Regions from separate parts of the Homo sapiens genome. Here region 1 is linked to region 2. Evidence: fine-mapped expression QTL. A gene starts in region 2. The other region holds a variant in brackets. All regions are shown on one strand. Distances are from middle to middle. Region 1 has its middle 9.3 kb from the start of GJA3. Region 2 holds the start of GJB2 (gap junction protein beta 2).

Region 1 (8,000 bases), 23 kb before region 2:
AAAAACAAAAACCAAAAAAGCACTTGGGCAGCAGCCGAATTAGAAAATTAGATCTCCTCATGTGGAAGAGGGTCAGTGTGATTCCTAAAGCAGGTAGGAGAACCACTGATAAACCATAGACAAGCAAGAGTGTCAGAGTCCTTGTCTGCTCAGTTATTGTCAGTTATCATCAGGTAGAACAAGCCTTGTCCTGGTATTTCACGTACTTCAGAAATAAAGACAGCCTTGGCTGAGAACAGACTTGTTTCTGATAATAATAATATAACCCTTCACCACTGCTTGGTGTTTTAACGTTTTCAAAGTGCTTGATCTTATTTGAGCTTCAAAACAAACGTGTGAGGAAGGAAGGGCAGGGATCATTTCCCATTTCACAGAGGAATACGTTGAGAGATGGGGAGGTGAAATGGTTTGCAGACATGTGTCACTGCTGGTAAATAGCTTATGGGAGTATGGGCTCTGACCTTGCAGGTATCAACCTAGTTCTTTCTGTGTAGCACTGTGAGACTTCTGAGGTTGACTAGGAAAAGAACTTAGTCATCCATAAATCAGTAAAAGTCGTGGTAACATCTAGAAAGGGCTAACATCAGTGATGTGAAGTCGTCAGCCTGTGGTTCTGAGGGAATGGGCCACGGTCCTGGAGGATCCCCATGCCTGCGCCCAGCCCGACTGGGCAAGATGATCCACTCCTCACCACCCCTAGGTACAAGAAGAGCTCCTCGCCTCCTGGTGAGCCTCACAGGGTCTGAGAATTTGCCTTGCCTGAGGATCTCAAATGACAGAATTTAAATTTGGTGGTGTTCACAAGCTGAAGGAGTTTATTTTCATGAAAATTGGGAGGGAAAAGGTGGTGCTTTATCATTTCTTCTGGGGAAGTAATCTTCCGGGGAAGTGTTAACACTATTACCCTCATTTTAAAAATTAAGAAAACAGGTAGAGTGTGGTGGTGCATGCCTGTAATCCCAGCGCTTCGAGAGGTGGAGGCAGGAGGATTGCTTGAGGCCAGGAGTTTGAGACCAGCCTGGACAACAAAGCAAGACCCTGTCTCTACAAAAAATAAAAAAAGTTAGCTGAAGGCAGTAACATGTGCCATAGCCCCAGCTGCTGGGGAGGCTGAGGTGGGAGGATTGCTTTGAGCCTAGGATTTTGAGGCTGCAGTGACCTATGATCCTGCCACTGCACTCCAGCCTAGGTGACAGAGTGAGACCCTGTCTTACAAAAAGAAAATAAACAAAAATTAAAGAAACCAAGTAGAGAAAGGATATGTGACTTATTCAAGAGCATGGTCTACTTTGGTGGAAGGTGGTCAATGTGTCTCAGGCTGAAGTTGTAAAGTGAGAAGAACAGGAGGGCGACCTGAACGATTAAGGCAAAACTTCGAAATGTGCCCCAGCAGAGATTTATTTTTCAGGGGGTGTTTTGCATTCCAGCCCCTCTGCCTTCCTGGCGTTTAGTGCGATTTGTTTAGCCATGTGCTCCCTGGTGTGTGTTTTTGAATGTGTGTGAGATGGGTTGTCTCTCGGGACCTGGCAGGTGCGGCCACCAGGTCAGGGCTGCCCCCCAACCCTGTGCCTCCTTCCTCCTAGACTCTGGCCCCCTCAGTGCTGAGGGTGATACAGAGCACTTTTCAAGCTGGATTTGGAATGTGGCCTCTCCCCTCCAAACTCCTGGAGATCATGCAAAGGCCTTTGGAGCCAGCCAGTCACCTGGAAGGTGACATTCCCACCAGCTGAGGCCTCACCTTCAGCGGGGGCTGGGCAGCTTTGGAGCCTGGGGCCAGCCAAGCTCACTCTGCCCATATCCCTGCCACGTGTGGCCCAGCGGATGATCACCTGTCTTCATCTGCGTACTGGGCCACATCCCTCCTGCCGTCCCCCACTTCCCTGATGACACCTACAGCAAGCCCCTACCCAAGTGTTCTGTGATCCCCTGTAAATGTGGCCTCCCTAGCTACTTGCTTTTATGAAACCAACAATCCTGGGGACACAGTTTTCGGCTGTCTCAAGACGGGGCAACCACTCTTTTCCCCAGGCCTGTGGGTCCCAGGCCTGGAGCTAGGGTTGGCATTCTTGCCTGAATTCTCCACTCTATCCCAACCCCTGAGGCCGCCTGAGGAGGCTCAGACTGTGTCAGGCTAGGAGGACAGTCAAACCACAAAAACATGCCTTTTAAGAAGTATAAGCACAAATCCCTCTTTGATGTTATATAAAAGCTCAGTGTCACTGATTAGGAATCCAGCAGCCCAGGTCCCTGTGTGGACATGACGGTGTTGAGGGAAGCGGATTGACCGCTGGCGGTTGTGTCCACAGCGAGGAGGTGGCTCTCCACTGTTGCTGTGCCAGCCACGTTTCCAGGAGTGTGTTTAGTTTTGGACAGAGTCCAGTGAAAAATCCAATCTATTTAAACAATGGAACATCACCCATTTAAAAGGTGACTGGCCCATTTAAAAGGATACAGAGAGGACTGAAAAACCACAAACTATAAAGAGGGGTTGAAGGGAGTGGGAATATTTCCCTAAGAGAAAGGACTCAGAGAAGACCCCTGTCCATTTAATGAGTACTGGTTACATGCCAGACACTGGGCCAAGACACTTACATATATTAGCTCACTTAATCCTCACAGCAGCCCAGTGAGGGTCATATGAAGAAACGGAGGCTCAGGAAGGTTAATTAACTTGCCGAAGGCCACACAGCTAGAATGGGGCAGGGTCAGGATGTTAATATGAATCTGCGGCCCCAAGCCCTTGCTCTTAACCAGCTGTGTGTGTGTGTGTGTAAACACAGTCATATGTGTATGTATGTGTGTGTATATATTTGTGTGTGTCAAAAAGTTTAGGCTGGCTTTGTATGTCCACCAAAAGGACAACCATGACCTGTGGGCAGAAGTTCCTGGAGAACAGCTTTTGCTTAAACCCATTACATATACCCAACTAGAGTTGTCAAGAAGTGGCTTCAGGATGTGGTGGTTTCCAAAGGTAGTGGGTGGGATGTCTGTGGAGTGTGTCTCTGAGAAGGTGGCCAGGAAATGCATCTATGAGGTGATGGGAAGTAACTTCCTGGAAGGGAAGAAGAGTTCAGATTAAATTAAGGCTGGATGTTAGAAGTGTTAGATAAAACCCTTTGGAGGACCTGGTGGATGCTGGAAATTTGTTAAGCGAGCCATCCATGTAAAGTGCAGCAGGGAAGGGTGCGTCTTGGAGTCAGCTGGTGGGCGACACTGTGAGGCGACTAGCCCTGCGAACTCTTGGGAGGCTGGGACTGAAGAAGACTGAGGAGGAACAGATGTGCCCTGGGCTCCCTTCTCCAGCTCCTTAAAATACCTGTGTCCTACAGGGAGGACAGACGGAGAGATGGTGCCACAGAACCCAGGAACTGAGCCTGGGAGGCTTTGCTGCTTTTGGTGTTGGTTGAACAGGATTTGTTCATGGATTACTTTTTTTTTTTTTTTCCACGCAGGCTGGAGTGCAATGGTGCCAACACAGCTCACTGCAGTCTCAACCTCCGAGGCTCAAGTGATCCTCCTGCCCCAGCCTCTCAAGTAGCTGTGACCACAGGCGTGCACCACCACACCTGGCTAATTGTTAAATTTTTCATAGAAATGGGCATGTTGGCCAGGCTGGTCTTGAATTCTGGCCTCAAGTGATCCTCCTGCCTTGGCCTCCCAAAGTGCTGGGATTACAGGCGTGAGGCACCATGCCTAGCCATGGATTACCTTTTTGATTCCTCCTTTGCTCTTTTCTTTCTTGGCTTCTACTGGCTACATTTTCTTCTCACTTGTCTTTCCTATCCTTTCCTTTTAATTTCACTTTTGCCTAATGCAGTCATAAAGACATTTCTGTCAATGATGAACTGCATATCCAACGGTGGTACCATAAGATTATAATGCCATATTTTTACCATACCTTTGGTATGTTTAGATATGCAAATTCTTACCATTATGTTACAGTTGCCTTCAGTAATCAGTACAGTCACATGCTGTACAGGTTTGTGGCCTCGGAGCGATA[G/A]GCTACACCACACAGCTTAGGTGTGCAGTAGGCTATTCCATTGGTTTGTGTGGGTACACCCTATGATGTTCCCACAATAACAAAATTGGCTAATGACACAATTCTCAGAACGTACCTCTGTCATTAATCGAGTGACTGGGTATCATTTCTTCTTTCCCTCCCCTCAGTCCCCATCGCTGATGGCTCTTCTCCATCAGTAACCAGCCCCCACCACCACAGTGTCCTTTTTACTCTTCCTTCCTCCCCACCCTTACCCCTTGTGATGGGAGGAATGAGCAGAGATGGTGCAGGACCAGCCAGTTCCTGCCAGCAGACTCCCTGCCACCAGCAGCCGTTGCTAGATAAGTAGAATACACCTATTTCTTCAGGACAATTGAGAGAAAGTCTGAGTTTCCATCACTGGTCTGCCCTTATTAGCTCTCTGCCCTGGGGTAAGTGGCTTGCCCACACTGCCCCCGTTTCATGAGCTTATGTACATGGAGATTACGTAGGATTGTTACGAAGATGAATCAACATGACCCAGTGTATGAAGTAGCCTAAACCAGTGCTGGTGCATAGTTGGTGCTCAAAAAATGGCACCCGTTATTATTACTTAGAAACTTGTATAGCAGTTTGCCATTGCTGTGACATTTATATTGTAATTTACACAGGTTTTGATCCTCAAGAGATTAGGGAAAAAATCTTTCACTACTAATGTCATTATTTCCCCTTCTTTGCAAAAGCTACTTACTACGAATAGAAACATTTACATAACGAGTGAATTTCTCAAATGGTGCAAGAATCAACCGCAAAATAGGCCTCCTCTTTTGAGTTTGGGAGAGAATAAACAAACAGAAATGAAACAACCTGGTTCCTATGAAGCCTCTTCTTGCTTCTTTTTGCCTCCCTGCGGGCCCCTTTGTCAGCACAGGGCAGGTGCTGAAGAACTTGTGCTCATCTGGCCCAAGCGCCTCCTCCATGTTTTCATCCTTGACAAGCCCAGACCAGGAACTCAGTGTCCCCTCACAAGAGGACAAATTTAATTTCCTGCTTATCCAAGATTTGTTTTATTTGATATGTAGGGACAATGTGTTTATAAATGGTTAGCAGCTATTAAGAGTGTAGAAATGTGTCATTTTCTTAACAGATAGGATCACCAACCCTCTTGAAAAAAAGTTGACATCACTTTCTAATATGGCCCCTGTGTAATGTCCCCAAGGCACTGTGTGATGCCACAAAAGCAAAATAAAATATTTGAAGTGTGTAGATTTCAGTTTACAAAGGCCAGGCCTATTGTTTGCCAAGGAAAAGAAAGCAGGAACCACTGGGTTCTCCGACAGTACTTACTTGGCTTTCTTCCTCTAAAAGAATGAGGCATTATTAATCCTTTTATTTCTACCAGAGAGCACAGAGCAGCTGAGTGATAGATGTTATCTAGCTTAAATATGCACTGGGTAAGCATCTGAGTGCAGGTAGCACTGTTCTAGGAATTATGGGGCTCCTGGGAAAGCGTAATGTGTTTAGTAGCTTATAATCCATCAATATGAGTTGATGTTGATAAGTTCATTAATATGATTGATGAACTTATAATTCATCAACCCATCAAATGGCTGACAAGCACATGAACTATGCCAAAGGCGCTGGGGTGTGATGGTGAGCTGAGTTGGGGGTCTATTCTCTCTCAACTTACAATCAACAAGATGAGCATTAAACAGGTAAATGCACAAGAAAACATGTACTGTGTTTCACTGCATCTAAAGTACGGTTGATCATAAGACATATCACCATGTATGTACCACTGAAGTAAAAGCCTGACTGTCATTGTTGGATGTCGCCAATTGTAAAGCACGGCTCTCTATTTCACAGGTGTTAGAATGGGAAAGAATTGTGTGTCTTAGAATCTGTGTGTGTAAGAATTAACTTATAAGTAAATTAATTACTAATCACGGTGAGTTCTTTATAGAAAAGATGTTACAAGAAAGCCCAACAGAGAGCCCTGCTTTAGGATGAGTGACATTTCAGCTGAGGCTTGAAGGGTAAGGACAGGGGAGAAGAGTTGGTGGGATGCTGTCTCCAATGGGTGGTGCAGGAGATAGGTGAACAGCGGCGCAGGGGAGGGAGATCAATATGGTGGGGATAGTCAGGGAAATATTGGAGGTGGGAATTGAGCTGCATTTTGAATGATTTGAGGTGGAAAAGGAAGGCCCAAACAAGGGACATAACACTAGCTAAGGCCAAAAGCAAAAGATAATGGGTGAAAAATCCATTTTATAATTCAAGTGGAATCCCAAGAGACTCCAAATAGCCAAAACAGTCTTGAAAAGGAGGAACAAAATTAAAGACTCACTCTTCCTGATTTCAAAACATACTACAAAGTGATAGTAATCAACACAGTTTAGTACTGGCATAAAGACAGACATATAGACCAATGGAATACAACACAGAGGCCAGAAATAAACACTTACATGTATGGTCATCTTCCACAAGGGTGCCAAGACCATTCAATGAGGAAAGGACAGTTTTTCAGCATATAGTGGGGGAAGCTGGATATCCACATGCAAAACAATCAAGTTGGACCCTAATCTTCCACCATATACAAAAATAAACTCAAAATGAGTAAAAAACCTCAATGTTAGACCCAAAATAATTCAACTTGTGGAAGAAAACAAAGGGCAAAACTTCACAAACTTGGATTTGGCAAATGATTTCCTGGTTATGGCACCAAAGCCACAGGCAATAAAAGAAAAAATAGACAAATGGATTTTATGAAAATCAAAAACTTTTATGCTTCAAAGGACACTAAAGAGAGTGAGAAAGCAATCCACAGAATGGGAGAAAATATTTGCAAATCACATATCTGATAAGGAATTAATATCTGGAATATATAGCGAACTGCTAAAACTGAACAATAACAGTATCAACAGAAAACAAGCTGATTCAAAAGTGGGCAAAAGACTTCAGTAGACATTTCTCCAAAGATAGACAAATGACTCATAGGCACATGAAGAAATGCCCAATATCACTAATCCTTTGGGAAATGCAAATCAAAACCGCTATGACAGCCCACCTTACACCCATCAAGATGGCTATTATCAAATAAACCAAAAATAACAAGTGCTGATGAGGATGTAGAGAAACTGGAGGCTTTGTGTACTGTTAGTGGAAATGTAAAATGGTATAGTTGCAGTGGAGTACTGTATGGTCCTAGCACTTTCTGGGAAGATGAGTTAATTCTCTCTTCATTTCAGGGCCCATGTGCGTGGGTGGTGGGCTGGGAAACTTCTGTTGCTTCTGGGCTTCCTCCCCCATGGCTGCCGCGAGTCTCAACACTCACTTGCACCCTGGCTCCCGCCTGGCATCCTCAGCCTGCCCTGCTGCCTGCTCAGCGAATTCTACTCGTCCTCACCCAGTGTCCCTCAAGGCTTCCTTCAAATGTCCTCTCCACCAAGGAGCTTTCCCCGCCACCTGAGGCAGAGGAAACCACTCCTTTCTTGATTCTGCAGATGCAGATTCAACAGACACCTGGCACTGATGGGCACCGAGATGTCCTGTGTGTTCATGGAGTTTATGTTGGGGTTTGGTTGGGGGCACCCCCGAGCTCCCCTCCACAGTTCAGAATGAAACAAGAAATAAGACAGGACAGGCAGATAAAAATGTCAGCTTCAAAAGCCAGGATAAAGTGACTTGATACCCCTTTCTAAACTAGACAGAATCAACTACCTGCTCACAGCTGCTGGCCTCTTTCTTGGTGGCACAACCTGCCCCAGGCAGCTTCGGCTGCAGCCAAGGGTGAACCAGGACACCCCACCACCCCCAGGCCTTCAGGCAGTGCCACACTGGAGAGGAGGGCAGAGGGCATTGGCCCTCAAAGGGCCAATTCCATCCCCCAGACTCATGGATGAATTATGTCTCTACTCCCCTAGAGAGGAGGAAACGATGGAGTGAATGAGAGAGAGAAAGAGAGGGCACACTGAGGTGGAATTCGACCAGGGGGCATCCTCATAGAAATATGAGAACAGGG
Region 2 (8,000 bases):
AAGACGAATGCACACAACACAGGAATCACTAGCTAGGACAGAACAGGGAGACTTCTCTGAGTCTGGGTAAGCAAGCATGCTTAAATCTCTTCCTGAGCAAACACCAACTCTTACACAACCTCACCAAAACAGGTGAAGACAGAACCAACTTAGTTTGTCATAGGATTAAATGTATAGTTCCCAAACCCTCTTGAACGTGTTTTTAGGTGTTCTCTGATAAAAAGTAGCTTGTTCACCTGAGTAATTCACCCAATCTTTAAACACATCATAAAAATTTGCTGTGCTGGGGAGTGTCATAAAGTCCTCGTTAGCTGAAAGGCACTCAGGGGTTCTGACCGTACCCCTGCATCCTCTGCAGAGCTTCCTTGGGTCTTCCTGACTCTGCAGAAGTTACTCAGCGTTCAACAGCTGCATCCATTTGCAGTCTCAAGTTTTGGCTGTACCACTGGGGCCGATACTAGCTTGGGCCAACCTTGCTCAAAGGCTGAGAGGCCAAGTACAGGAGAACCGTGAGGATAAGATGTCTAGTCTCTCTGCTGAGCCACTTTCCTTAATGTCTTGAATGAATTTTCACAGACGTGGCATGTAGCAGTGAAACTGTTGTTACCAGTGGTTAAGTTTACATTTGAGGCACCCCGAGTTAAAATTTTACAAAGGACCTTGCTTCCTCCTACGTGAAAGGAAGAGGTTAGGAATGCCCTCTTCATGGAGAAAAGCCACTGTGAGCACAGACTTTCGTGTAGGCTTTGTGGATGGCTTGGTGGCCTCACTGTCAGGCTGGCACTGATGGCTCAGTTAGCATATCTGTTTTGATAAGTGCTGCAACAGTGCATTATAATTGTGGGCTGTGGTTTTAATTTCAAAGTGTTTCTTAAAAGACACATTATTTTAAAATGACAGAAAATTCAACTCCCTCGGTTACTGGCCCAGCTAAGCGACGTCACTGCATTGCAGTTCAGCGCTGAAGCTTGGGAGAGTCCCACACTCCTTACTGCAAGCGGATGTGGAGAGGCCAGTGGATAATCTCCTGTGAGCCCATGGCCTTCTTTTCATCCCAGGATGTGAATTGTCTTCACTGATTCATAGTTACACCCTGCCTGCCACAACCAACGCTCTCCTAAACAAGATTCCACCCTCTCCACAATCCGGATGAATCATCTCTTTTCCACCCTTCAGAGCTGGTAGTGAATCCTCCTTCTTCTTTTTCTTAAAAGCATCCTCCTCTCCTCATTTTAGGCAAGTTGCATCCCGTTTTCTGATGGACTCCAGAAGCAGGCTCGTAGTGAATGTCTTTCATGACCCACAGTCGCTGCCACGGGGCACCAAGGTCAGGCAGAAACCATCCAGTGCCACCTTGGTCAGAGGCTAACAGGAGAGAGGTGGCCACGAAAGTTACATCAGATTGACATAGGCCTGTGAAACATTTAGCTTCACTGAGCTTGGGAAAGACAACATCATTGGAAAAAACAATATTTTAGCCCAGGTTCAGCACTGACCCATTGATAATCCAGACTGGGAGGCCCTTAGGTGAGCTGGTTGTCCTGCTACAGCACCCACAGCTCAGGCCAGTCCCGTCCCAACAGCAGAACCACCGAGGACAGCAACATTCCGATTTTAACAAAAGCATCTTATGGAATTAGACATTCTTCATTGGCCCTCACTGAGTGGAAAACAGGATACTCCCCGAAGTAAACTCTCTCCTGGTTTACAACAATACACCTGGCCAAGAATATGGGGCTGCAGGAGGAGGGGTTTATCCTTTGCCCTCTTCCACCTGCCAAACCCAGGTCATACACCCTTCTACAGACCTGTCCAGTTACCATCAGCTGAGAAAAATACAGTTCCGAGAAACCCTATATTGTTATTTTATAAAGCTTGAGTTGAAGCTACCTGTTTTAAAGATCCTTTTTCAGGAAGAGGAGTAAATTAAGATTTACTCCCCAATGGGCTAGGGGGTCATGGGTTAAGAGGGGCTCAGAAGCAGGACGAAGTTGTTTTCAATATTCAAGTCAGAGGAGGAGCTGCCCTCCTGGCCTCCCGACCCTGGGCGGTTACATGCAGCTTCCTACCGGGCCCACGCCATCCTGCACCGCCTGGAGGGCTGCCAGAGGCCAGCGGAGGAGTTGGTTCAGTTCCTTAGGGAAGACACTAGGTGAATCACCAGGATCCAGAAAAGGCAAAAGGGACTCTTCACCCCTTAAATTTCTCCACCCTTAGGTGATGGGTGGTCGACCTTGCCTGGCTGTCCCCAGAGGGTTCCTCCACCCTTCTCACCAGTGTCTGAAATTGTGACCGACTGTGCACAGCAGTTTCGAAAGGGACTCTAAGGTCACATGGGGACACGGCCGTACCACGCTTCTCAAGGCAGTCCCAGGTGCATGGCCACGGAACCCAGCTCTCAGCAGCTGTTAGTTAGGTGAGCGCTGTTCGGGCTGCCTTCCTCCTCCAGTGGGGCAGGATCGAGGCACTGATGGAACCGTCCTGAGGACGCGGGTCTCAGCCGCACACCACCTCTTCGCGAACAAGGGTCCTAAAAATTTTCCTTCTAGGCGGGGAGCACAGCCCGGAAACAGACCCTCGTGAAGTGTTTAGGAAAAAGGGAAGCCACTGAAATCTTGGCCCCGGGGTAGGCCGGGATCGGCTGGCTCCGCGTTAGTTCTAGGCAAACTCCGCCCAAATCTCTGCCCGGGGATTTTTCTGCAGAAGCCGCTCCAAGAGGTAAAGGTCAGTTCCTGCAGCGAAGGCTTCCTGCTTCACCGGCGAAACGGAGCTTTGCTTCGAAGCTAAGCTTTCGGTGAATTTAAAACGTTTGGTGGCAGTGGGTCAAGTAGCCAGGCGGCTGCGCTAGAGTACCCCGAAGGGACATCGGCGACACCACAAACCTCGCGCTGGCGGCTCGCCCGCGCCTTTTTCCCCTCCCGCGCGCGCCCGGCCCCACTCGCACCCCGGGCGGTGCCATCGCGTCCACTTCCCCGGCCGCCCCATTCCAGCTCCGGAGCTCGGCCGCAGAAACGCCCGCTCCAGAAGGCGGCCCCCGCCCCCCGGCCCAAGGACGTGTGTTGGTCCAGCCCCCCGGTTCCCCGAGACCCACGCGGCCGGGCAACCGCTCTGGGTCTCGCGGTCCCTCCCCGCGCCAGGTTCCTGGCCGGGCAGTCCGGGGCCGGCGGGCTCACCTGCGTCGGGAGGAAGCGCGGCGGGGCCGGGGCGGGGGTCTCGGCGTTGGGGTCTCTGCGCTGGGGCTCCTGCGCTCCTAGGCGGGTCCTGGGCCGGGCGCCGCCGAGGGGCTCCGAGTCGGGGAGAGGAGCGCGCGGGCGCTGCGGGGCCGCAACACCTGTCTCCCGCCGTGGCGCCTTTTAACCGCACCCCACACCCCGCCTCTTCCCTCGGAGACTGGGAAAGTTACGGAGGGGGCGGCGCCGCGGGCGGAGCGCGCCCGGCCTCTGGGTCCTCAGAGCTTCCCGGGTCCGCGAACCCCCGACCGCCCCCGAAAGCCCCGAACCCCCCAAGTCCCCTTCGAGGTCCCGATCTCCTAGTTCCTTTGAGCCCCCATGAGTTCCCCAAGTGCCCCCAGCGCCCTGAGTCTCCCCCGGTTACCCCGAGCGCCGCCTCCCCCAGCCCCTTGGCGGCCCGGGTGAAGCGGGGGCGGCTGAGAGTCGGGACCCCCCAGGAAGCGGCGCCCCAGACCCCGGCTCCGGCGCTGTGCCGTGGGCGGGGTTCAGGGATGGCTGTGGTCGTTGTCCTCTGTACTCCGCATAGTGCGAGAGGACTTGGCATTTATGAGCGCTTCTTTAATTTTTTATTGTTAGAGAAACAGGCATTCCTCCAAGGACTGAAGATCTGTTCGAGTCGCGGAGGCTGCGCGGGCCCGCGAGGCTCTCGCAGGGGGACCTAGGCTGGGTGGCGGGGCAGTGCCCTCTGGAATGGGGGTTAACGGTGGCCGAGGAGGGGGCGCCGCTGGTGCCGGCGAAGTCCCCGCTTCTTTCTCCCCTCAAAATCTCACCAATCCGAACGAACGCCTTCTCGAATTTCCGATTTTATTCAATTACTTTCAACAATGTGCCAAGGACTAAGGTTGGGGGCGGTGGGAGAGACAAGCCTCGTTTTTGCCATGGCCGGCAGGGGGGTCCCGCCATCTGCGGAGGGTGCCCCCCGCGGCCCCCGGCCCAGCCAACTTCCTCCTCTTTTCGCAACTGGGGAACTGCAAGGAGGTGACTCCTTTCGGGGTGAGGAGGCCCAGACTTTTCAGAAAGGAAAGAGGGCAGGTAAAACCTGCCAAGCCCCTTCCTGCTCGATGCACACAGCACGAAAGGGGGAAACTGATAGGATTCTGCGGAAGACCGCTGGGGGGCTGGCTCTGCACTGCACACCTGCTGGGGGCTTTCTGGATACCGTGAAACTTTGTCTCAGATTATGAGGTCTCAGTATTTGCATTTGGTTGGGGATTTTGATGTCTTGCGATACAAATGACAGAAGACAGATTTGCACAGCGCAAGCGGATGAGGGACTAAGATGTGCAGAGCAGGCTGGGTGGGGACTCCCGGGGAGGTCTCCCCCAACCCCCGCCCCACCTCGGGCACCCACTTCGCGATTTTTGCAGAGGGGAGCCAGGTCAGAGGTGCAGCCTGGTCCCCTCGCGCTCACGTTTTTACCCAGGTCAGTTCGAAGTTAAGTGGAAATGATGATTAATCCTGACAAGTCAGATCTGGCCTCAGAATGGATTTCCCGTGATTGCCACCATTATTAGCATTGACTTTTCCTTGAAAAATTGGCGCCCCGTGGCCATGGGCCGACCTAGGCAGTTTCTGCAGGGACGAGCGTGAGTTTTGTACCGCGGTTACCACCTACTTTCCAGCTCCAGGTCTTAGTCTAAGAGGGAGTGTCTGCTCATGAAGAGGCAAAGCCCCAGGAGCTGCGAAAAGCCTTGCATGGCCCATCTGAGAGATGTGCTGAGTCGGCTTGTTAAAAATGACAGGCAAAGCCTGTGGGGTGGGGCAGCTTTCTTGGCCTGAGCGCATCTTGGTTGAGCCAGAGGTGACTTGGGGTGGGGAGTGGGGCGCCGGTTGGTGGGTTCTCCCTTTAATTTCTCAAAGGCTGTGGTGTTTATGAGTCTGTTGGAATCCTGGTTGGGTTGGAATGAAGGAAGGTTCTAGAACCATTGTGGGAAGCTCGCTAGTAAAGATGGTTTGGAGATCGGAAGTTGACTGACTTTCCCCCATTGAAAAATGTCACCTGAGATTTTAGTGCCTGTATCACGATTATAGGCTCAACTTTCTTTTCCTTGTTTTCTTTGATTTAGTTCTCCTTATGTGCAAAATTACTGTGTGATGTTGGCTAGTCGTATTATCACAGCCACTCCGTGTTTTCAGGATTTGTAGCTGGAAGTCCTATAGCACTTAAGTCTTCACTTACAGATCAGCGCTTGCTTTTATTCTGTTTTGTGTGATTTCTGCTGTTTTCCTGTGAGTTGGTGTTTTCTTCCCAAGTAGGCTCAGGACTCCTCTAGGGCAGGACATTATATGCATGTACATAGTGTCCTCCAGTGTAGGGGAGGAGAAGGAGGAGAGGTGAGGTGGGAAAAGGGTGAGGGAAGGCTTGGATATTTGAAGTTATTTACAAATGAGCTTAGACGTAAATCCAGTTAACAGATGACACCACAAATTAATGATTAAAGAAATCCTGAAATTATTTTGTAAATTACACACTTATATTGCTGCATTTTTTTTCTGTTGAAAGCATTACTTTTAACAGAAATGGAAACATTGGAAATAAACCATGTTTTTCTCACCTTTTATGTCTTCATCTCTTAATGTACCAGTCCCTAGAGAAGCTGAAGCCCAATCCTGTGTTCCTCCACCCCAGCCACCCAGCCCCATGGTGAGGACACAGGGAGCTTAGGATAGTACTGCTGCGTGCAGCATACACCTTTGTCTCATTGACGTGCAGAGACTGACCAGATAGAGAAGGTTTTTTGATGGAAAACTCACTGTGGTGTCTGCCTGGTTGATCTTGAATGATGGCAAGTGGGCACTTTTCAGGTAACTATTGATGATTAACTGACAAAGATCTGTGAAGGCTACACTTTGTCACTTCAGAGTGCCAGAGATACCCATCAGTAATATTTTTACATATATGCTTAGTACCATGCAGGTAAATCCCAGGTGATTGTCATCGAGCTGAACTTTTACTCAGATGTTTAAAGTGATGCACTTGTAAGGTTATAAGGTGAAAATGCTAATGTTTAAAGCTATTTGGCATTTTAATTTGACAGTTGTTTTATAAATGAACCAAAAAGAAAGAAGTTGCTGTTTTGCAATAAATCAGTGTGACACAAATCATATTTCTTAATATTTCAAGTGACTGCTTGCCAACTGCCTGATGGAATGGCACCGTGAATTCCCGCCGGGAAGAATGCTCTAAATATACATTAAACATGTCTTGGTTGAATTTCCGACTCACGAATCACACGTAGGTGATGGCAGAAAATGATGCAAGACGCGAAGAGACTGTCCTACCACTTGGCAGTTTTAGGGCAAGTTGGATTCATTGAGTGTCTTTTCAAGAGCCATTAGTTAATGGACCACATTCCCTTTTCTTGCCTTGCTGTTGAAATATTAATAATAATAATAACTGGCAAAAAAAGAGAAACTTTAGCTCTCCTCAAAATAGCAGTTGGAAACTGACAAGCTCCTGGCATCTCTGGTTAATTAATAATAACTTACATATGATACTGTAATTTTAATGCAGGAGTGGCTCCACTGTGCTCCTTTGTGGGTAATTATTACAGGGAACACTATTTCACTACAATTTCTCTCTGTGTAATTGAACCACACCCTGACTTATGTTTTCTGAAAATTGTTAAAGTCAAATCTTTTGGGGAAAATCTGTTGTTCCATTCAAAGAGTTAAAAAAAAATTCCAGCCTTCAATAATTTAATTGTTCTTTGCTTCCAAATTAAAGACATCTCATAAAATTCTAATTGCCAAGTTGTGACTGAAATTATTATATAGGCTTTTAAATTTTCCTCATTCTATTCTTATTTTCACACATACAATCTTTTGGGGGAAATTCAAACTGCTAGATGTGTCTCCGTTTCAAGGCAATGGTAGAATTAGTTGATCTCCTTGGTTTTGCTGAATGGACACGTGCTCTTACTCACAAATATATCCATGCAGTTCTTTTATGATTATCTAGGCAGACTGTGGATAAATTACAAAGACATTTCCAATTGTATTTGTGTCAAAAAGCACATTTTGGTCAGAAATGAATCCAGAGCTATAACTCCTTAAATAGGTAAATTTTTTTTACTTCTATTGAATATAAAAAGTAAATTCTGTAAATTATGGTGGCTTGCCAACATGGAAATTCTGGATCATTCACAAGGAAGCCAAAAAGAGCTCTACATTCTAGCTCTGGCTACAAAAATATTGTGCTATCTATCATCTTGAAGGGCTTCTGGAACAAGTTAGAATAGAGTCAACACTCATGAACTGCTGTAGCAAAAAAAACTATAGATGTAGGATTGACAAGGGCAATAGAGCGATGACTCCCTGGCTGTGTTGTATTTGATGGACGGCAGTAGCTTTTCACAAAATGCTCATTTGGATGTTTCAAATTAAAACGTTTCACTTTCTAGAACCAATTACGTGGTCAGTTTAGCTCCTGAGGTCCCAGTCAGAGGGGTATTCTGTAGCTTGCAAAGCCTCTCTTTGGGGACTGGACATGGAGTCTGTGGTCTTAGAATTCAGAACCGGGAGAATGTGTTAGCCACTCATCTAAGCTATTCCTTAAACGCTTTCAGAGCCATCTCCACTGTGGGGAAAGAAGTTCTTTGTGTTCTCTGACTTAGTCTCATTCTAAAAAAAAAAAAAAAAAAAAAAAAAAAGCAATTGCAATACCCAGAGCGCACAGTAGATGGCACTGAGACTTGTCGGAAAGCTGGACGCACTCAAGAGGTGGCAGAAAAATCTATAGGTAAGCTTTTCTTCTAGTCTGGTGTTGCT

What was found.
Region 1: its variant is fine-mapped to the expression of GJB2 in monocytes after LPS (Fairfax 2014, PIP 0.93).

What each region holds. Positions count from the first base shown.
Region 1 is chr13:20,166,313-20,174,312 of GRCh38, forward strand. No RefSeq gene overlaps it. Among named protein-coding and RNA genes, the nearest start is that of GJA3, 9.3 kb to the left of the region's middle. The variant G/A (reference allele first, on the strand shown) is at 4,001.
Region 2 is chr13:20,189,610-20,197,609 of GRCh38, forward strand. GJB2 (gap junction protein beta 2) reads right to left here and starts at 3,329. Exons shown (of 2, transcript NM_004004.6): 1 at 3,174-3,329.